3 linked regions of the Homo sapiens genome follow. The protein of the gene in region 2 purifies or fractionates together with the protein of the main gene of each other region. This does not show direct contact. Each region holds a gene or a part of one and is shown on either strand. Other genes may lie near its edges.

Evidence for each region. Proteins that work in one complex are often made in the same cells at the same time.
Region 1: the proteins of FAXC (region 2) and BTAF1 purify together in Homo sapiens (co-immunoprecipitation; 2 studies listed by BioGRID and IntAct, with this or other methods). This does not show direct contact.
Region 3: the proteins of FAXC (region 2) and TBC1D9B purify together in Homo sapiens (co-immunoprecipitation; 2 studies listed by BioGRID and IntAct, with this or other methods). This does not show direct contact.

Annotation. Positions count from the first base shown.
Region 1 is NC_000010.11:91,919,301-91,926,774, forward strand, and holds the start of BTAF1 (TATA-binding protein-associated factor 172), read left to right. Parts: upstream 1-4,469; 5' UTR 4,470-4,776; coding exon 4,777-4,790; intron 4,791-7,474. UniProt on the Homo sapiens protein: Regulates transcription in association with TATA binding protein (TBP). Removes TBP from the TATA box in an ATP-dependent manner.
Region 2 is NC_000006.12:99,339,654-99,346,678, forward strand, and holds part of FAXC (failed axon connections homolog), read right to left. Parts: intron 3,381-7,025; coding exon 3,245-3,380; intron 1-3,244. UniProt on the Homo sapiens protein: May play a role in axonal development.
Region 3 is NC_000005.10:179,897,893-179,904,917, reverse strand, and holds part of TBC1D9B (TBC1 domain family member 9B), read left to right. Parts: intron 1-105; coding exon 106-216; intron 217-5,610; coding exon 5,611-5,729; intron 5,730-7,025. UniProt on the Homo sapiens protein: May act as a GTPase-activating protein for Rab family protein(s).

The sequences.
Region 1 (7,474 bases), on a different chromosome or scaffold from region 2:
AGACCCTGTCAAAAAAAGAAAGAAAGAAAAGAAGGAAGGAAGGATGGAAGGAAGGAAGGAAGGAAGGAAGGGAAGGAAGAAAGGAAGAAAGCAAGAAAGCCTAGCACTTTGGGAGGCCGAGGCAGGTGGATCACCTGGAGTCAGGAGTTTGAGACCAGCCTGGGCAACATGGTGAAACCCCGTCTCTACTAAAAATGCAAAAATTAGCCAGGTGTGGTGGCAGTTGCCTGTAATCCCAGCTACTCGGGAGGCTGAGGCAGGAGAATTGCTTGAACCCAGGAGGCGGAGGTTGCAGTGAGCCAAGATTGTGCCATTGCACTCCAGCCTGGGGGACAAGAGCAAGACTTCGAAGGAAAAAAAAAAGGAAAGAAAGAAACTTCCATTAGGCATTTCTTGTAGGGCAGACCTAGTAGTGATGAGTTTCTTCAGCTTTTGCTTGTTTGGGAAAAACTTTATTTCTTCTTCATTTCTTCATTCCTTTCAGCACTTTGAATATATAATCTTATTCTTTCCTGGCCTATAAGGTTTCTCCTGAGAAATCTATTGGTAGTCTAATGGAGATTCCCGTATATGTGACTTGACACTTTTCTCTTGCTGCTTTTAAAATTCTTTATTTTTCTTTAAATTTTGACAGTTTGATTATTATGTGCCTTGGTGAGGATGTCTTTGGGCTGTATTTATTGGGGGATCTTTCAGTTTTATGAATCTGCCCCTCTATATCTGTCCCAAGACTTGAAAGGTTTTTTTAGCAATAATTTCACTAAATAAGCTTTTTCGTTATCACTTCTCCTTCCTTAACTCCTATAATGTGAATATTTGTTCACTTAATGGTGTACATTTAGTTATTATAAATAATAATAACTAAAATAGTTAATCATAATAGTTAATATTTATTTAATACTTAGTCTTTTCTTTTCATTGAAACAGGGTCTCCTTCTGTCACCCAGGCTAGAGTAGAGTAGCATGATCATGGCTTACTGTTGCCTCAAGTTCCTGGGCTCAAGGGATCCTCCCACCTTAGCCTCCTGAGTAGCCAAGATTATAGGCACATGCCACCAACAGCTGGCTTTTTTTTTTTTTTTTTTTTTGAGACGGAATCTTGCTCCATCACCCAGGCTGGAGTGCAGTGGCGTGATCTTGGCTCACTGCAAGCTCTGCCTCCCAGGTTCATGCCATTCTCCTGCCTCAGCCTCCCGCGTAGCTGGGACTACAGGTGCCCGCCACCATGCCCGGTTAATTTTTTGTATTTTTCATAGAGACTGGGTTTCACTGTGTTAGCCAGGATGGTCTCCATCTCCTGACCTCATGATCTGCCTGCCTTGGCCTCCCAAAGTGCTGGGATTACAGGCATGAGCCACCGCACCCAGCCTAATTAAAAAAAATTTTTTTTGTAGACATGAGGTCTCCCTATGTTGCCCAGGTTGGTCTCGAATTCCTGGGCTCAAGCGATCCTCCCACATCAGCCTCTCAACGTGCTGGGATGACAGGCATGAACTATCACACCTGGCTAATACTTAGTATTTTCTAAGTGTGTCATGTATGAACTCATTTCTTCCTTATGACAATTCTATAAGTACAGGTTCATGATCTATTATTTACAATTCTGAAATTGAAAATGGTCTGAAAACCACACTTTTAAAAACTCACCTATAGTCCCAGCTACTCATGAGGCTGAGATGGGAGGACTGCTTGAGCCCAGGAGTTCAAGACCAGCCTTGGAAACAGCAAAATGCCATCTCAAAATATATATATTTGGCAGCAAATCCTGGCCTGAACTGGCATATGCCTATCTATAGTCTTTTACTTATTCCTCTTAGTATGGTTAGTCATACATTTTGCTGCAGCTCTATAAATATATTTGATTATAGAGTACTGCCCTACAAGCTGTTGGGATGCTGCATAATACAAGGTATATTCATTGGATTTCTTTTCAAAACCTAAATAATTCTTAACTCAGAAAACCATCTGGCAGGGGTGATGAACTGGTATAGATAACGGTGGTGAACTGGTACTATTATTATCCCCGTTTCACAGCTGAATAAATTGAGACTAGAAATTGCCACTTACTCAAGTTTCCATTGTTAACAAAAACAGTAAGCAATGTAGTTAATAATATTTTTGAGGGCTTCTCGTGGCAGTCACTTGGTTAAATGTTTTATGTGCATTAATTTAATCATCACCGCAACCCTATGAGTACTATTATTATCCTCATTTCCCAGATGAAGCTTAGAGAGGTTCTAAAATTCCCCCTGGAGACACTGCGATTCAGTGTGGTGAGAAAGGATTTAAAAACAAGCCGGTCCAATATCAATATATTTGATTATTACACTATCCTTTACAAATCTACACCACCAGTCCTTTCCTCTCTTCTAATGCCATTTAGACTATATACCCAATTATCTGATAATAAAAAGATTTAAAAAATATAACTAAGATCATTTTACTCACTTGCTTAAAACTCTATGACTTTCTACTTCATATGGAGCAAAGTCCAAATTCCTTACGATGATCCCTTTCTACTTCTCCCATCTCATTTCCCAACAGAGCAGACTTCTCTTACGCCTTTGCACTACGTATACCCTCTTCCTGGAAGGCTCCCAGATTGTCACACATTTAGCTACCTCTTGTCATTTAGGGCTCAGCTTAAGCTAATCCTGTTTTTCCCTGATTTACCCAGTAAGAGTAGGTCTTTAATCATACCATTAATTCCATCATTCTCTTTACATAGCACATAAATATATTTTCAATGTTTATCTATTTTCTTTTTCCTTTCCTTTTAATGTAAATTCAACCAGAGTAGGCACCTTGTCTGTTCTGGTTTCTTCAGAAGTTCCAGTCTCTCATATGGTAGGTGCTTAATTTTGGCTAAATGATTGCTGTACACGATCAGTAAAAAGTATCTGCTTGTTATTGAATGGTGGGAGATAAACTGATGAGGCAAGTAGGTGACTAAAGTGAAAATGTAAAGATATCTTGAACATCAACTTGATTAGATTTTAATAGCATGAACACCGCCAAGCAGAGTTTCTGATACAGAGAGGTGACAAACATTTGTTGAATGACTGGACAATAAATATTATTACTAGCTTGAATCTTGAGGCAAATTACTTAACCTTTCTGAGCTTAGTTTCCTTGTCTACGAAGATTAAAACTAACTTTTCAAGGCTTCCCTACAAATTATATGGATAATGCATGTCATGTGCCCAGCACACAGCAGGTACTTGTTAGTTTCTTTCTCTTTACATACATATATACTACTTTATGGTTTACAAAGTTCTTGTAAGCTCTTCTAGATTCATGACCTCATTTTATTCCCACAATCTTCTGCAGTACTTCTCATTAGCCTCATTTTACAGATGAAAAACAGACTCAAGGATTGAGACATAGCCTCTTCAGGTAATGAGAAGCCAATGGACATGCTTTATAAGCATAGGAGCGACATGATAAAAAGCAGTGAGGTTTTTTGAAGATTAATCTGTTGGCCTATAAAATGGGCTGAACTGAAAATTGGAGAAATATTATTTTGACTACTAGCATAAAAATCAAGTTTAAGGGCCGGGCGCAGTGGCTCACACCTGTAATCCCAGCACTTTGGGAGGCCGAGGCGGGCAGATCACTTGAGGCCAGGAGCAGGAGACAAGCCTGGCCTACATGGCGAAACCCCGTCTCTACTAAAAAATACAAAAAATTGGCCCGGCGTGGGGCTCGTGTGCCTCCCAGCTACTCGGGAGGTTGAGGCACATTTAGAATCGCTTGAACCCGGTAAGCGCAGGTTGGCAGTGAGCCGAGATCGCGCCACTGCACTCCAGCCTGGGCGACAGAGCGAAACTCGGTCAAAAAAAAAAAATCAAGTGTAAGATGATAAGGGCCTGGCAGAAGTGTTTAAAAGCCTAATGAACTTAAAAATATTGAAAAGCCAGATAAGTCCCCCAAAGGAACAAAAATTTAAAAATGGTAGTTTTCAAATCTGGCTGGCTGAGAAAATGATGGTACAAACAACATAAACAATTGAGAAATCAAACTTGGCAAAATCGTTGGTCAGAAGACCTTCTCTCCAATACCTAGGCAGAACTTCTGGCAAATAATGACAAACATCTGAGCCATTTCTTCAGTGTCATAGCGACTTTTTGCTTTCACTCCTCCCACTGGCTTCACCACCTGGACAAGAGCATGTTAAGGTCCTTCTGATCTTGCTTCCTAGATGCAGTACGGTGGGAAGCAGAATCTGGGTAGTGTGGAATTAGAAACCAAGCTTTCGAAGTTCCAGGACTTGGACTAAATCGCCTTTTTCCTTCTCTGTCAAATAAGGGGACCCTTACTTCACCTCCTTCCCTAGTTTTAAGACTAGACACCCTCTCCACATCAGCACAAAGCGCTTTTATTTAGGCGCGTGCCGCCAAACCAAAGGCGCTCGCGCCGAGCTAAGCTCCTGTCGGTGAGCTTACGTCACTTCCGGCGCGCTGACGCTCAGTTGTGCGTGCCGACGCCCGCGTCAGCAAAGAGCGGAGCTGAGGGTACCCGGTTTGAAGTCGTGCGGGTCGGAGGACTGCCGCCTCCGCTACCGTCTTGGACCCCTGCTTACCGGCCGCCGCGGGGACGAGCTCGGGTAGGCGGCAGGGCAGATGCCCGAGGGCCTGCGCTGGAACGCCCCACGCCGCACCGGCCGCTCCCCTGTGCTCCGCGGCCTGGGCCTGCGCCGCTCAGCTCTCTGGAAACTAGCGCCTCAGCTGCGCGGCGCGTAGGTCGCGGGGAGCTCCGAACCGCCGGCGCCCGGCCATGGCGGTCTCCAGGTGGGTCTTGCTCCTGACGAGCAAACTGGAAGGCGATTCAGGGAAGGCATGGTCTCCTCTTAGAGCCCCCACTCCTAGAGAAGAGCGGTTCTCATTGTCACTGGGCTCTGGAGCTTTCTTCAGTAGACTTCGGAGTTCGCCCCGTGGTCGGCGGGGGTTTGGGCTCGGGTTACTCCTGGGTAAATCGGTTCAATAATGCCTTTTTCTTGTTAATAGACCCCTTGGCACGTTAGAGCTGTTTTTTCTCTTTCCTCACCATGTTTCTGTTCTCTGGTTTCTCTTCCCTCTTTCGATTCTAGGGGAGTCTCTTATCTTTCTCAGTATTCTAAGGCTGGTCCCTAACCTCCATTTCATGGGAAAACTTGGTAGTTACTGTCGATGGAGGGGAAACCTGAATTACTATTATCTAAGAGACCGTCTAATTATGTTACCAGTTTTAATTTACGTTTTTAGGGGTATGTTCTTTCCTGAGATGTTTTTTAAAATTAAGTATAATTTCTCCTTTTGTTTGGCAGTAAACATTCCAACGTCAGCGTTGTAACCTTAAGCCAATTATCGTATTAGCATCATTTTCCGTAACTAAGGCGTGGAAGATAAATCACAGATCTTATATTCTTTTGAAATATTGCCTGTCAACAGGAAAGCCCAGGAAAACTATAGAAAAACTAACGACATTTATTTGTATAGCTATAGGAGAAACATTACTTTTTCCTCCGGTATGATAGAATGGTTGGAAAGCTTTTGTAAGCGGAATTTGGTGACCCTCTGTACATGTAATTAAGGGATAGTTCCTCTGTGATAGTGATCGGATGGATTCACCAAGTTCCTTAGAGTTGATATGGTAACTTTTAATGAGAATTGGATTCTTTTACCATATAGACTGAAGGAATAAATGATGAAAACAAATAGTTTTCATTTTTTTATAATTAACTGAACACATTCTTTGAGCGTATTAAGTGCACAAGTTTTATCTGTTTTGCAAGGGAAAGGATAACCCATTCCTTACAGACTCCCTAGATGACTGATGAAATAGTGTGTGGGAGAAGCCCATGGGAGTTGGGTGAAGGGGGTTGCTAGGTACCGTAGTATGGGGCATCTGATTTTTATTTTATAATCTATTCAATGTGAGGAAATTTTTTTTTAAATAAAACTGCCTTGAGAGAATACAAGTGACATTTTACATTTTTGCAAATATAGAAAGGTGTATCTTCTAATTTGTTACCTCCCATATAAATGCATGAATATATACATTGTAAATGCATTGATATGTAAACTTAATATAACATTTATCAGGTAATAGTGTTTAAGGAGATGAGTACTTCTTTTCTTAGAGCAACCTGTGCATTTTCACAGGATTGGATGTAGCTTTATAAAGACAAAATGAAAGTGTTTAAAAAGAACCTAATTTTCGGGCAACGCTAATCTCTTTTTTTTTTTTTGAGAAGGAATCTGGCTCTGTAGCCCAGGCTGGAGTGCAGTGGCGAGATCTCGGCTCACTGCAAGCTCCGCATCCCGGGTTCAGGCCATCCTCCTGCCTCAGCCTCCCAAGTAGCTGGGACCACAGGCACCCGCCACCACACCTGGCTAGTTTTTTGTATTTTTAGTAGAGACGGGTTTCACCGTGTTAGCCAGGATGGTCTCGATCTCCTTACCTCGTGATCCGCCGGCCTTGGCCTCCCAAAGTGCTGGGATTACAGGCGTGAGCCACCGCGCCCAGCCAACACTAATCTCTTTACGGAATTTTAGGACAGTTAATATTTCTCAATGACTGAGTGGGTTTTGAAGGTACTGTCTTTTGTTCTGGATGTTGTGTTTCAAAGAGTAGCACTCTTTTTCTGTGGATTTTTTTCTCGTTCACTTTTTTAAAAGCCTGTCATGTTTTTATGGAAGAGCTATTTCTGTGCTTAGTTTCCTTGGGCTCAGTAGTAAGCCCAAGGAAAACATTTTGAGACACTTGTGTGTTTTGGGGATAGTGTCAATTCTTGACTTTTTCACCTGTGGATTTCTTTGAATGGCAAATTTTAGTTTCAAGCTGGCCTTCTCCATGCACGAAGCACAGTTCTGTGCTAACTAAACTTCCTTTCTCTCCTGTTGGTGCAGACTCATTTTAATACTATTTTACGTAAAATAGGTGGAAAATAGCCCAGGAGATAAAAATCATATGCTAAAATCAAATCTAAAATATTTTTTGCACTGTTTATTTCATATGCATAACTGAAGAGAAACTGTAATATTTTTAGGACATTTCCACCAGAATTTCCAACAGATGGGAAATAGTAAGTTAGTACCATTATTCCCTCAATTGTCTGGTCAAGAAATTTGAGAATGTTCTTTGACTTCCCTTTTCCTCCCACACCCCATGTCCAGCCAGTTACCAAATCCAATCCTGTATATTCTGCCTTTCTAATCTTTCTCCAGCTGATCATTTTTCTTTCTATACCAGTTACCACAATCCTAGAACATGCCACCATCTCTAGTCCAAGACACCTTTAGAGAGACGCTTCCCTTTTGTCACTGTAAAGCTACATCCAATCTTTTGAAAATACACACTCAACCCTAGGAAAGGAAGTACTCATCTCCTTGAACATTGTATCACCTGATAAGTCTCATAGTAAGTTTATGTATCAATGTATTTGGTATTTGGACATGTTTAGTACAAGACAGGAGCCTCTCTCCTTTTCCTG
Region 2 (7,025 bases):
GGAATAAGGAACACAATAGATGGGGTAAATAGCATAATGGATACAAAAACAAACAAACAACAACAACAAACACACATAGAGCAATGCAAAGGAAGCTCAGAGAGAGGAATGCTTCCAGAAAGAAGCAGAAAAGAATTCAAGTAGAGAGTAGAGAGACATAGAAAATAGAAGCAGAGTTTCCAAAATCTGGATAATAGGGAACAAGGAAGAAGAGGGAAAAGAAAAACAAACATAAAAGAAAAGGAAATATTTTAACAAAATTGATAATTAATTCTCCAGAATTCAAAAGAGATGAAAGACCTCAGATAATAAGAGTTTATAAAGGACCAAACAGGATATATAAAGACCCACACCAACACATGCCATATTGAAACTTGAGAATATTAAGATTAAATACAAATTCTAAGATAATTTAGAGAGAAAGAGAAAGAAGAATGAGATTAACATCAATTTTCTTTTTTTTTGAGACAGGGTCTCACTCTGTCTCCCAGACTAGAGTGCAGTGGCGTGATCTCGGCTCACCACAACCTCCACCTCCCCACTTCAAGCGATTCTCCTGCCTCAGCCTCCCGAGTAGCTGGGATTACAGGCACACGCCACTACCGCCCAGCTAATTTTTGTATTTTTAATAGAGATGGGGTTTCACCATGTTGGCCAGGCTGGTCTTGAACTCCTGACCTCAGACGATCCACCAGCCTCAGCCTCCCAAAGTGCTGGGATTACAGGCATGAGCCACCAGCCTGGCCTAATATTTTTAAAATATAGAAGGAAAAGAACTTTGAACATAAATTTATCAAATGTGAGAGTATAATAACTATATTCTCAGGCATGCAAAGCCACTGAAGGTTTGCCACATAAAGACTCACTCTAAAGATATTCATCAGGGAAGTTCTCAAATAAAAAGATAAATCCTTTATAATAAGATATATGGGAAATAAGGCTAGTCAAATAACATACTAAAGTTTGTTGCCTAAAAAGGATAAAAAAGAAAGGATAAGAATTGCTAAAATTCCTTTTTTTTTTTTTTTTTTTTTTTATGGAGTCTGGTTCTGTCACCCAGGCTGGAGTGCAATGGCACAATCTTGGCTCACTGCAACCTCTGCCTCCCGGGTCCAAGTACTTCTCCTGCCTCAGCCTCCCAAGTAGCTGGGATTACAGGTACACACCACCACACCTGGCTAATTTTCGTATTTTTAATAGAGATGGGGTTTCGCCATGTTGGTCAGGCTGGTCTTGAACTCCTGGCCTCAAGGGATCCATCCTCCTCGGCCTCTCAAAGTGCTAGGATTACAAGCGTGAGCCACCGTGCCCGGCCAAAAAATTCCAGAATTAAAATCTTAGACAACAGCAACACAATTGGGATCAGGGCTGGGAAGAAAGGAAGAGACCCAAGGTACACGTAAACTGCTAATGTGTTTGTATTATAACAGAATAAATACAGACTTTAATTCATTTAACAAATTAATAAGCATAAACACAAATTTGGGTCTTAAGAGTAACTACAATAACAACAAAAATATAATTTGTTTTAAATGAGAAAAAATATCTATTAGAAAGCAGGAAATGAGAAGAAATTTAAAATGAAGTATAGTAAGGAGAAAAATATTAAATAAGATATTAGAAATAAGTTCTAATAAAACAATCATTTCAATAAGTATAAATGGATTAAAGTTGCCAATTAAAAGACTCTCCAATTAGATATAAGAGAGAAATAAATACAAAAAGAGAGAGGGCGAGAAAAAGAGAGAGAGAATGAAGAAAGATATCCTAAGCAAATATGAACCAAAAGAAGGCTGGAGAATCTATCTCAATATCTGATAACACAGAATTCAAGTTTTTTAAAAAATAGGAAGAGACATCAATGGAGGATACATACTAGAAAAATAAACAAGAGTAAAAGATGTGAACTTTTATATGTACCTAACAATGTAACCTAAAATATATAAATACTCTAACATAAAGCAAGAACAGACAGAATGACAGGAAAGAGACAAATCAACAGATACACTTGAATATTTTAACATGCTCCTTTCAGACAAAAAAATAAGCAGAAATACAGAAGGTCTAAATAATACACTAAACGTGTTTAAGCAAGTAGATCTATAGAGAGCTCTCTATATCCAAACAGAGAATATGTAATTATTTTCAACATTTTAAAAAAGTAACTACAAACCAGGCTAAAGCTTCAGTGAATTCCAAGGAATCAATATCACAGAGACTATCTTCTCTGACCATCAAATTAAAAATGATAACAAAAATCAAAGCTTAAAATAGTTCCATATGGCTAGAACTTGGTTAAAAATAAAAACATAAGTGAACTTTTAAAAAAAATACATAGAATTGAATGACTATGAAAACACAGCGTGTTGACTTTGTGAGACACAGCTCAAGCATTACTCAGAGAGAAATATATACCTTTAAGTACACTCCTCTTCCTTATTTACTGCTAAAATGAACAAGTGTTTCCCTGAAAGTCACACAAACAGAACATGGAGTGCTGTGGAAAAGCTCTCACCACATACACAAATATCTACCTCGTGGCCTACTGGGCCTTCTGCCCCCAAGATTCATGAGGGACAAAATACGATGCTGTCAATAAACTAAAACCTAAAGTAAAAAACCACATCAGGCAGTGGCACACCCATCTTTGTCAAGGCTCAGTAGGCCTGTCCAAACTATTAACCAAAGCATACTTTTTTTTTTTTTTTTGAGATGGAGTCTTGCTCTGTCACCCAGACTGGAGTACAGTGGTGCAATCTCGGCTCACTGTAACCTCTGCTTCCCCGGTTCAAGTGATTCTCCTGCCTCAGCCTCCCAGGTAGCTGGGATTACAGGCGTCTGCCACTAGCCCAGCCAATTTGTGTATTTTTAGTAGAGACAGGGTTTCACCATGTTGGCCAGGCTGGCCTCAGACTCCTGACCTCAAGTGATCCGCCTGCCTTGGCCTCCCAAAGTGCTGGGATTAAAGGCGTGAACCACCGTGCCCAGCCCAAAGAATACTCTGTTAAAGAAAAATATCATGGCGCTGAATCTCTCAAAAGTTTAGACCTTTTTGATCCATCATTATCAACAGACCCTGGAATCAAGTATTTTATTTCCCTCTTACTAAGGATTAGGCACTGCTAGTTTCAGCTCCCATCCCCTCTGGCATCCACTGTGTGAGACGAAATATTCCCCCCTTTAGTTAAATACTCATCCCCTGATACTGATGTCATAAAAAGAAAACATATTTGCACACAAGTACCTGATACGGTAAGTCAGCCATCCTTAAATAAGTTTCCATCTTTAAACAGAAAGGAGATAAACTTGGAACACCATTGTTAGGTCTTGCAAACTGATGCAAAATAATAGCATCTTTAGAGTCAATCTCTTGCTGTTTCCTGTCAAAACCAAAACAGAAATAAAGTACAATCCACATGTTATCCACATTCGGTTCCCTTATTTCTTGAGAGGACCCTGCAGGGTTGTAGCTCCTCAATGAACAAGCAGATCTGTTTGTCACAGGGGCTTACATCACCCAGCACCCAGTTTGTCGAAGGGGCTTACCTCACCCAGCACTCATGGAAGCTTAGTCAAAACTCAAGAGAACCTTACAAACTCCCATGATATTACCATGACCCCACTGGCTCAGCAAAGTAACTACATAACAACCTCCTTCTGTTACCTATGGCCTCCGGGCAGCAAGAACATTTTCTAGTACTGGTCCACCTATTCTCCAGCCGGCTGTATTTACCTGCTAGGACAAGCTGGATGGATAAAAATGATATTCTGTGCTTGCTGTGTGTCACACATTGTTCTGAGGGTCTCATGGGTCTTATCTCCTTTAATCTTCATAATAACCTTATGAAGTAGGTACTACTGTTATCCACGTTTTATAGATGAGGAAATTAAGGCACAGAGGATTAACTTGCCCAAAGTCACATTGCTAGTTATGGCAGAATGGGCACTCAACCAAGAAGTCAGAGCCCATGGTTTTGGCCATTAGACTATACCATGAAACAGTCTATTCATCCATAAGACCCAGGAATAACAGTGCAGATTTGCTCTGCTATGACCCAAGTCTGTAGGGAATCTGAGACTGAAATTCTGGTCCCTCTTCCCAACTGCCCATGCCCTCACCTAACCCTTCTTTCACCTGTAATGCCATGGAACCTGCCTTCTGGATGCTCTCTCTCTAGCTCTGTCTTCCTTATTTTCTGCCTTCCCAGTATCCCCACTTTTACCACACAGCATGTATTTCAGTACCCCTGCTTTTCCCCTTTCTCCTGTCTCAGCCACACATCCATCTTTTCCTTTGGCTACTCTTTTGGGTGAGAAGGACTTCCCTGCATACAGCTTTTCAATAACCACTACATAATGGAATGAATGCTGGATTCCAAGTCTGGACAACTGGTGTCAAATCCAAGCCCTGCTTCCTACTGGCCACGTTAGCCTAGATCTCTCCACCATCTTCACCTGAAGAGTGAGGACAGTACCAATTCTGTATGGTTTATCATGAGGATTACATAAGGTAATACTGTAACTATTTAGTAAACTATCAAGCATTAAGTAATAGTGGAATTTATCCCCATCCAAAGAGATATGGTCTCATCCCTGCAAGCTCATCATTCCACACAGCCCCACTCATACCCCACTCCTCGGGACCCTTTTGCAATTTCCATCTTCATTTGACCCAGCTGATTTCTAGTCAGATAAACTTCACTCTTCCTTCCCCTTGGCCCTGCCTGAGCCTCTGGTTCCCTCGCATTGTTCCCAGTACAACACCACACCCCCTTCTTTCTACCTAAGCAAGAACAAGCTCTTTGTATCTTCATCACATGGATGCCCACTTCCTGCAGATCCCCATTTAGTAAAACAAACTCTCTTGAAAAGTTTACCACCCAAGGGCCCACTCAACTTCACAGTACAGAATGACTCATTTTGAAAATATGTCAAGTAAAAAAAAAAAATTGCTGCTTTCTGGCAATATTAACTATAAAAGAAATGTTTTCATTTAAATGGAATGTTCGAGAAGTCAGGTATTAAAATCAAGAACTCATTTAGACAATGTTCCAAGACAGCACAAACTATAGATCTGACAATTAACTGATTTTGTCCAGTCAAATAATTCCCATCACAAAGTGGTATTTTCATGTAAATTAACAGACACAAATTTCAGAACCGACAGGAGAGGAGACAAACAAAAAATCCCTGCTCCATCAGCCAGAACGATCTAATTCTAATTGTTAATTTGGGCCATGTCATGGTAAGAATGGAGGCTAATTATCTACCAAGCATATGCTAATGACTTTATATATATTATATATGTTAACTTATTTAATTCTGACAATGACACTTTAGAATGGGTACTGTTACAGTTTAAATTTGGGATATCATATTATACTATTTTATAGTAGATAAGAAAATTGAAGCTCAAAGACGTTAAATAACTTGCCTAAGGAACATCAATTTAAGATTGACTCTGAAATAACTCGTTTCCATGCTCTTAAGCACTTCAAGGTCACCAAAATGGGCAATTCCTCGGTTAATCGTATTAAAACTGCCAGTTTGACTTAGACCACTGAAGCCTGAAACTTTCTGATAAAAGTCACAGCTAATGATGGCCAAGTTTTATTGAATTTTCACCTTGACAAACTCTGTTCTAAGCATGTCACGTGTTATCTCATTTAATCAATGCTATGAGAAAAGCTACTACTACTATTACCATTTTACAGATGAGAAAACTGAGTCATCAAGAGCTTACTGTCATATCCAAGGTTATGTGGTTGGTTACAGACAGAGTCTGAATTTGAACGCAGACAGTCTGGCACCAGAGCCCTCCCTCCAACATGTCAGAAACTCCTCTCTAATTTAGGATCAGAGGTTTGGGTAGGTTGTTCCCTGTACAGCTATATTTTATAAAGTGATCTTACCATAAGGTTTATATAAGAGGACAGCCATAGAGCATTAACTAGCTAGTTTACTACTATTCCCGGGGCTAACGATACCACAGATGAACATGCCTCTGTATACAGCTGATGATTTGTTAGTTTGCAGAGATCAGATGTTGATTCGCCAACTAAATGCTCTAGAAGAGGCTGAGCCCGTGTGTCAAAAGTGCAAATAAGCACTGGTAATGAAGTTAGTACTTAGTCATTCAATTTACAAACAAAAATTTCCAAAGCCTGATTGAATTTAAGATAGCTGCCAAGCTATCTCCACTCAGGGAAAACAAAGTAGTGTGTTGGAACAATATTTATTTTAAAATATGGTGCTAAAAAACATGGATAAAACCCCAAAAACCTACTTCAGTTATATTCATTAATTAAACTTCCTAAGTAATTCTCACCTGTCAACTTTACTCTTCCACTCTAGAGACACAGTCATAGATTAAGGTTATGTCTATGCAGCAGAAAATCCAAGTAGGCTGGGGAAGAGTTTGCAATAGCCAGAAACTCAGGGTAGTCATTTTAAGGTGTATTTTCTATCTTACATATTTCAGATTTTGTTTTGTTTTCTGCCTAAATTATAAAGACTATTGAAACCTAGATTTCACCTTAAGTGGAGGTAGTTATCATGTAACCTCTAAAGCCTTGGTCTTTGACCTTCCTGCCTGGTTTTTTTCCCTTTGCCCCTCCACTCCTCTTCCCCTAGACGCTGCAAGAAAGGCACCTGATACAGGTCTGTCTTCCCTGAGCAATGCTTCAGTTCTCCACATTTCTCTTCCTTCCTCTTCCTCCAACAAAACGGATTTCAAAGTAGGTACTTTTTTTGAGACGGAGTCTCGCTCTGTCGCCAGGCTGGAGTGCAGTGGCACCATCTCGGCTCACTGCAACCTCCGCCTCCTGGGTTCAAGCGATTCTCCTGCCTCAGCTCCCCGAGTAGCTATAGGACTACAGGCGCGTGCCACCACGCCAGGCTAATTTTTGTGGGGTTTTTTTGTTTGTTTTTTAGTAGACGGGGTTTCACAATGTTGGCCAGATGGTCTCGATCTCTTGACCTCGTGATCCGCCCGCGTCAGCCTCCCAAAGTGCTGGGATTACAGG
Region 3 (7,025 bases), on a different chromosome or scaffold from region 2:
CTTTGGGTAGCGTCACCATCCTGTCTGCCTCCGGCCAGACTCAGCCTTCAGGGGCCTCAGTCCGGCCCTCCCCTCACCCTCTATGTCTCTCTGCCCTGTTCCCAGGTCTTCTCGTGGGCACCCTGGACGTGGTGCTGGACTCCAGTGCCCGCGTGGCCCCTTACCGCATCCTGCACCAGACCCAGGACTCCCAGGTCTACTGGACAGTGGCGTGTGGTAGGTGCCCTGAGTGGTGAGGGGTGCTGGGCAGGGCCTGCCCTGGAAGGGCCGTTGCCGAGAGGAAGGGGTGTGTAGCCCACGTGTCTGGGTGGTATTCCCTGCTGACAGCATAGCCCAAGGCTGCAAGAGGGAAGTGGAGGAGCCTTCGCTTCCATCTTAGAAAGGCAGCTCCGTGGCCCGGTGCGGTGGCTCACGTCTGTAATCCCAGCACTTTGGGAGGCCGAGGCGGGCTGATCACGAGGTCAGGAGATCGAGACCATCCTGGCTAACACGGTGAAACCACGTCTCTACTAAAAAACACAAAAAATTAGCTGGGGGTGGTGGCGGAGGCCTGTAGTCCCAGCTACTCGGGAGGCTGAGGCAGGAGAATGGCGTGAACCCGGGAGGCGGAGCTTGCAGTGAGCCGAGATCGCGCCACTGCACTCCAGCCTGGGCGACACAGCGAGATTCCGTCTCAAAAAAAAAAAAAAAAAAAAAAGGCAGCTCCACTGGTCATGGGGACAGGGCAGGAGAGGACAGCCCCATGGATCCCCATGTACCTCTAGGGACGCAGGTGTGGGGCTAGCCAATGTCCACATTCTCATGCCACCTTTTCTCAAGGTAGACGTAGTCGGCCTCATTCAAAGATTCCATATTTGCAAATTGGCCTACTCAATAAAATGTATTTGCAATCCCCAAATCAATACTTCCAGCGATTTTGTGGTCATTTGGAGACACTCATGGACACATGCACGTTCAAAGCAGTGAAAAATTTGACTCGCCTGATGCCCATGTCCCCAGCTGAGGCAGAACAGGACGACGCTCTGCCTTCTTGATTCAGCTCTCATACTGCACTCACGTGTCCTGTTCACAGTCTCTGCAGTGCCATGTTTTTCCCATGTTTGTGCTCGTTGCTGATGACTTGGCTGTTTAAAATGGCTCCCAAGCATAGCGCTCTTGTTCCTAAGAGCAAGAAGGCTGAGTTGTGCCTTGTGAAGGAGATCTGTGCATGAGAGCAGCTTCATTCAGGCGTGAGTGATAGTGCTGCTGGCCGTGAGCTCAATGCCAATCGATCAGGAATACGTATTAAATAAGGCATCTTTAAACAGAAACACATGTAAAACAGTTATGTATCGGTCAGTCGACAGAAGTGTGATTAGAGGCTCCAGGAACCTAACCCTGTGTTCCCCCGGGGTACTGGTTCAGGATTCGCTAACTCAGTGTTCGCGGCCACCTTACAGAATCTGACCACCTGAATAACGAGAATCCGCTGTAGTTGTCCTCCTAGGTGGAAGCGCACTCACCCGTCCAAGAGTGCGGAGGGAAGTCCCCTTTCAGCGGGTACCTGCTGGGTTGAGTTTGCTCTGAGAAAATGACAGTCCTAGCTGACGCTCAGACAGTGCTTCCTGTGTGCCAGGCACTTGCCTGAACCACCCGGTACCTCCAGAAGGCATAAGTACTTTGGTCTTCTCTATGTTGAAGGTGAAGAAACTCTGGCCCAGAGGGGTTGAGTAACCTGCTCAGAGTCACACAGCTGCAGTTTGGACCCTCTCAGTACCTCTCTGAAGCAGAAGCCACAGTGCCCTTGTTCTCCAGGGTAGTGGTTTCCCTTGAAGGCCTGGGAGAAGATGATGAGACTCAAAAGTTTGTCAACCTCACGGCTGGAACCCAGCTTCAGGAGGGGAAGGGTCAAGGAAGTAAAAGCACAGGGCGGGCGGCACCCCGGGAATAGCCCCACTCCCAGGTGGGCGCTCTGCACGGGCATCCTGACCAGCAGTGCCCTTCTCCTTTGCAGGACTGAATAACTCAGTAAGAGTTAGGAAGGGGAGTTTGTCCAAGGCCAAGCAGGGAAGCCCAGTTAGACCCCCGATCTCTGGCTTCAGAGCCTGAGTGGACCCTGGGGGCAGCAAGAGTTTGCCAGAGGAGGGGCTTCCTGTGGGGAGGGGACCATTTCTGAGTGGGCCAGGAGGTTGGTGTGTGCTAATGAGGAGAGGAGCTGCTTTAACATGGGCCCTTGAGATTTCCATCTCTGGCAGCAAGAGCTGCCCGTCCCTGGGGAGAGAAAAGTACGAGGGGCAGAGTGGGAATCCCTTTAGTCACAGCAGGCCTGGTGCTGGGGAGGGGCCCAGCCACAGCCACGCAGCGGAGCCCATGTACGTAGCCCCGTGCCACACACTTGACCTCTCCCCTCCTGCCAGGCCCAAAGCCCTGCACTGGCCCTGGCTGTGCCTCCCTTTCCTGCCAGCCAGGCTAGGCCCCAGAAGCAACTCACCAAGACCAGACATGGCCCTGCCAGCACCTGCTTAGTGAGTCCTGACCCTTGAGCCTGGTGTTCGAGGACACCTGGGGGTCTGCCTGCCTCCATTTCTGGCCTTGTCTCCCCAGCTCACAGCCTGGCCTTCAGCCGGACCACACAGCTGCAGGGCCTGGAGGAGCCACACCCCTCCTGGCTGCTGTGCCTAGTGTCCGCCATGCCAGCTAACCTTCCCTCCCGCTCCTCTGAGAACTGCCCAGACTCCACAGACCCATCCTTCCTCCTTACTCCTCTGGACATGACGTGTCTGCACACGCTTTTACGTGGAAGCCCATGAGGCCGGGAGCTTCCGAGGGTGAGGGCAGGCTCTGCAGCCAGGCACCCAGGGTTAGGATTCTGATTTGATCACTTCCCAGCTGTGTGACCTTGGGTAACTTATTTCACCTCTCTGTGCCTCAGCTTCATCTGGTAAAATGAAAATAATGGTACCTGTCTCCACTGTGTTCTGAGAATGAAATAAGATAATCCATGGAAAACTCTGAAAACAGAAACAGCATTTAATACTCTAATTAGCTATTATATTATTTTTATTCCCAGCACCTAGCATAGAGATGGAATAGTTTCTTAGTATGAAATGAAGATTGAGTTACTTTTAACTAATATTTTTAATGCACATATGTAAAAAAAGAAATGTTTTTTTGAGGCGTTCTCTTTCTGTTGCCCAGGCTGGAGTGCCGTGGTGCAATCACAGCTCACTGCAGCTCTCTGGCTAAAGCGATCCTCCCACCTCAGCCTCCTGACTAGCTGGGACTGCAGGCCCACGCAACCATGCCTCATTTTTTCTATTTTTTGTAGAGACAGCCATGTTGCCCAGACTGATCTCAAACTCCTGGGCTCAAGCGATTCCCCTGCCTCAGCCTCCCAGAGTGCTGGGATTATAGGACTGAGCCACTGTGCCCGGCCTATAAATATTTTTAATTAAAGTGCTGACACATCCACACAGGCAGCGAGGAGGAGATTTCTTCTGTTTTAGTTTTCTAGGAATGTTATGTGTAACAGAAAATAATACAGTAGAGTTGCACCACATGTAAATTTGACTTCCAAATTCAACTGTGGGTTCCTGGCAAAGAAACCGAAAAAGAAATCTCTACCTACCAACTAGGCCTTGGCCTCTGTGCATCAGGGAAAGGAGGCTGTAATAGAAATGCAAAGAAAAATGAAAAAAAAAGTTTAAAGTGAATTATGGATGACTTAAGGGGCTTCCAGGAGTAATTCTGGGGGCCTTTTGTGACTCACTGCAAGCTGTGTGATTCTGGGTGGAATCGTTTTCCCGTGGGCATCCTCCCCCAGGCCAATCGGGAGGATCTATCCTGTGGCCTTGCTTCTTAGGTCAGGGTCTGCTTGAGGAGATTTGACAAAGCAAACAAATCAGTCCCAAGCAGAACAGCCGGGCTGTGACACAGCCTTGAGCGGGTGCCACGGGCTGGAGCAGGTGACAGGCCCAGCCTGGCCTGGAGGGAGGGTCAGAGCTGTCTCCAGCTGGCAGAAGAGCCTGGTCAGGGAGGGAAGGAAGGTGGTCGGGGCAGGCGTGCCAGCAGAGACGTCTGGTTCACAGTCACACTGGCCTCCCGAGCATAGTGCCGTAGTGCTCTTGTTCCTAAGAGCAAGAAGGCTGAGTTGTGCCTTGTGAAGGAGATCCGTGCATGCGAGCAGCTTCTTTCAGGCGTGAGTGATAGTGCTGCTGGCCGTGAGCTCAATGCCAATCGATCAGGGATACGTATTAAATAAGGCATCTTTAAACAGAAACATGTAAAACAGTTATGTATCGGTCAGTCGACAAGAGTGTGATTAGAGGCTCCAGGAACCTAACCCTGTGTTCCCCCAGGGTACTGGTTCAGGATTCGCTAACTCAGTGTTCGCGGCCACCTTACAGAATCTGACCACCTGAATAACGAGAATCTGCCATGTCTTGGCTGAGGCTGTCTTCATGCCTGGTGGGTGGGCCTCCTGTCCCACCCCCGGACAGCTGAGAATGATTCAGGGTGTCATTCACTCCTCATCCTTGTGTTCATTCAGTACAGGCAAAACCCCAGAAACAGGTGCTGGGGGTAGGGGAGCCAGGCCAGGCAGAGATCTCCCCTCATCCCTTTGCTCTTCCCCCGGGGCTTCTTCCCCGATTCCTTAATGGGAGCAAACAATTCTTCCAGCCTTTGAAAGTGGCATCGTGCTGCCTTCTCTACGTTTTTGTTTTGTGTGTTGTTTTGTTTTTTGAGACGAGGTCTCACTTTGTCACTCAGGCTGCACTGTAGCCTCCGCCTCCCAGGCTCAAGCAATCCTCCCACCTCAGCATCCTGAGTGGCTGGGACCACAGGTGCATGCCACCACGCCCAGCTAATTTTTTGTATTTTTGGTTTCGCCATGCTGCCCGGGCTGATCTCGAACTCCTGGGCTCAAATGACCCTCCTGCCTCAGCCTCCCAAAGTGCTGGGATTACAGGCATGAGACACGGCGCCCAGATTTTCTCTACATTTTTTTTAATTTCCGTTGGGCCTATGGAGGACAGGGACCCCCTCCCTCCTAGGTGGGGCAGACACAAGGTAAGAAGGTGGCCAGGAGAAACTGAAGAGAGGGACAGTAGCTACTCGCCTGCCCAGCAGGAGCCTCGCTGGCCAGGGGCCTGGAGTCTTGTAGGAAGCTCCGGCTGCTTATCTGTGGATACCTAGATGCTCAGGAAAGAGCTGGACTCATTTATACAAAGTATGACTGTGTCTGATTAATCACCTACATAGCAAAAGCCACATTAAGTTCTTTCAACTTGAGGAAAAGTGTAAGTTAGCAAGCTTGCAGGCACACAGACTATTTCTAGGACACATAGGAGACTTAGTGACTCTCCCTGTTGGCTTCAGGGACAGGTGGAAACATTCTCTCCCACACGACTGTGATTCAGCCTGGACGTTTAATTTTTTGTTTTTTTACCAGGACCATTTATTACTTTGTTATGCACATATCCATCAGCTTAAGAGGGAAAAGCAGCTTGAAGATTCTGGTCACTTAGATTTAGCAAATGAGGTCACCCACTTTCATCTCGCTTCTTTGAATGTGCGTTTAAGGCCTGGGGAATTCATGATTTTTCTTTTACTTTACCAAACCTCTTCTAGGTTCTTCCCGCAAAGAGATCACAAAACACTGGGAATGGCTGGAAAATAACTTGCTCCAGACACTGTCCATCTTCGACAGTGAGGAAGATATCACCACCTTCGTCAAGGGCAAGATACACGTAAGGTTTACCCGCCACTCTCTGTTCTCACCCTTCCCTGGCCAGCAGTGTTCTCGTGTATTATCCTATTTCATCTTCACGATGTAGGGTGCGTCCCCATTTTACAAAGGTGGAGACTGAAGTGTCAGCGCTCCTTCTCTTGGAGTTGAAAGGGGCAGAGGAACTCGTGACCCAGGAAAACCCCTTCTTACCCTGGGTGGGCACTGGAGGCTGCTGAAGCCTAGTGCGGGGCTTCCATTCCTACCCAAGTGCCTTGGAAGGCGTACGCAGATAGACGGTTCTGTTTGCCAGAAGAGATGCTGGAAACAATTGGATATTTTGAGTTGTTTTTTATAATAAAACTAACGTTATTTTAAAAGACACATGCCCTTTACCCAAAAATTCCATTCTTGGCGTTTACCCTACAGTGTATTCATATATGCAGAATATACAGTTTAAAGGGCCAGGTGTGGTGGCCCACACCTATAATCCCAGCACTATGGGAGGCCGAGGTGGGTGGATCATCTGAGGTCAGGAGTTCAAGAGCAGCCTGGCCAACGTGGCAAAACCCCATCTCTACTAAAAATACAAAAATTAGCCAGGCATGGTGGCACGCGCCTGTAATCCCAGCTACTCAAGAGGCTGAGACAGGAGAATTGCTTGAACCCAGGAGGCCGAGGTTGCAGTGAGCTGAGATCGTGCCACTGCACACCAGCCTAGGTGACAGAGTGAGACTCCATCTCAATTAAAAAAAAAAGGCCAGGTGCGGTGGCTCAGGCCTGTAATCCCAGCACTTTGGGAGGCCAAGACAGGCAGATCACGAGGTTAGGAGATCGCGACCATCCTGGCTAACACAGTGAAACCCTGTCTCTACTAAAAATACAAAAAAAATTAGCCGGGCGTGGTGGTGGGCACCTGTAGTTCCAGCTAATCGGGAGGCTGAGGCAGGAGAATGGCATAAACCCGGGAAGCAGAGTTTGCAGTGAGCCAAGATGATGCCACTGCACTCCAGCCCAGGCGACAGAATGAGACTTCGTCTCAAAAAAAAAAAAAAAAAGTAGAGATGGGGTTTTGCCATGTTGGCCAGGCTAGTCTCAAACTCCTGACCTTAAGTGATCCACCCACCTTGGCCTCCCAAAGTTATGGGATTACAGGCATCAGCCACCGCACCTGGCCTGAATGTATATGTCTTTTTCTTTCTGTTAGGTTATTGCCTTAAGTTAGATTCATGGGAGGGCTCTTACCAGGTCAAAGTCGTGTGGTGCAAAGTTGCTTTGGGCAGGCCCATGTGAATTCCTGATACCAGAACTTCCTAAG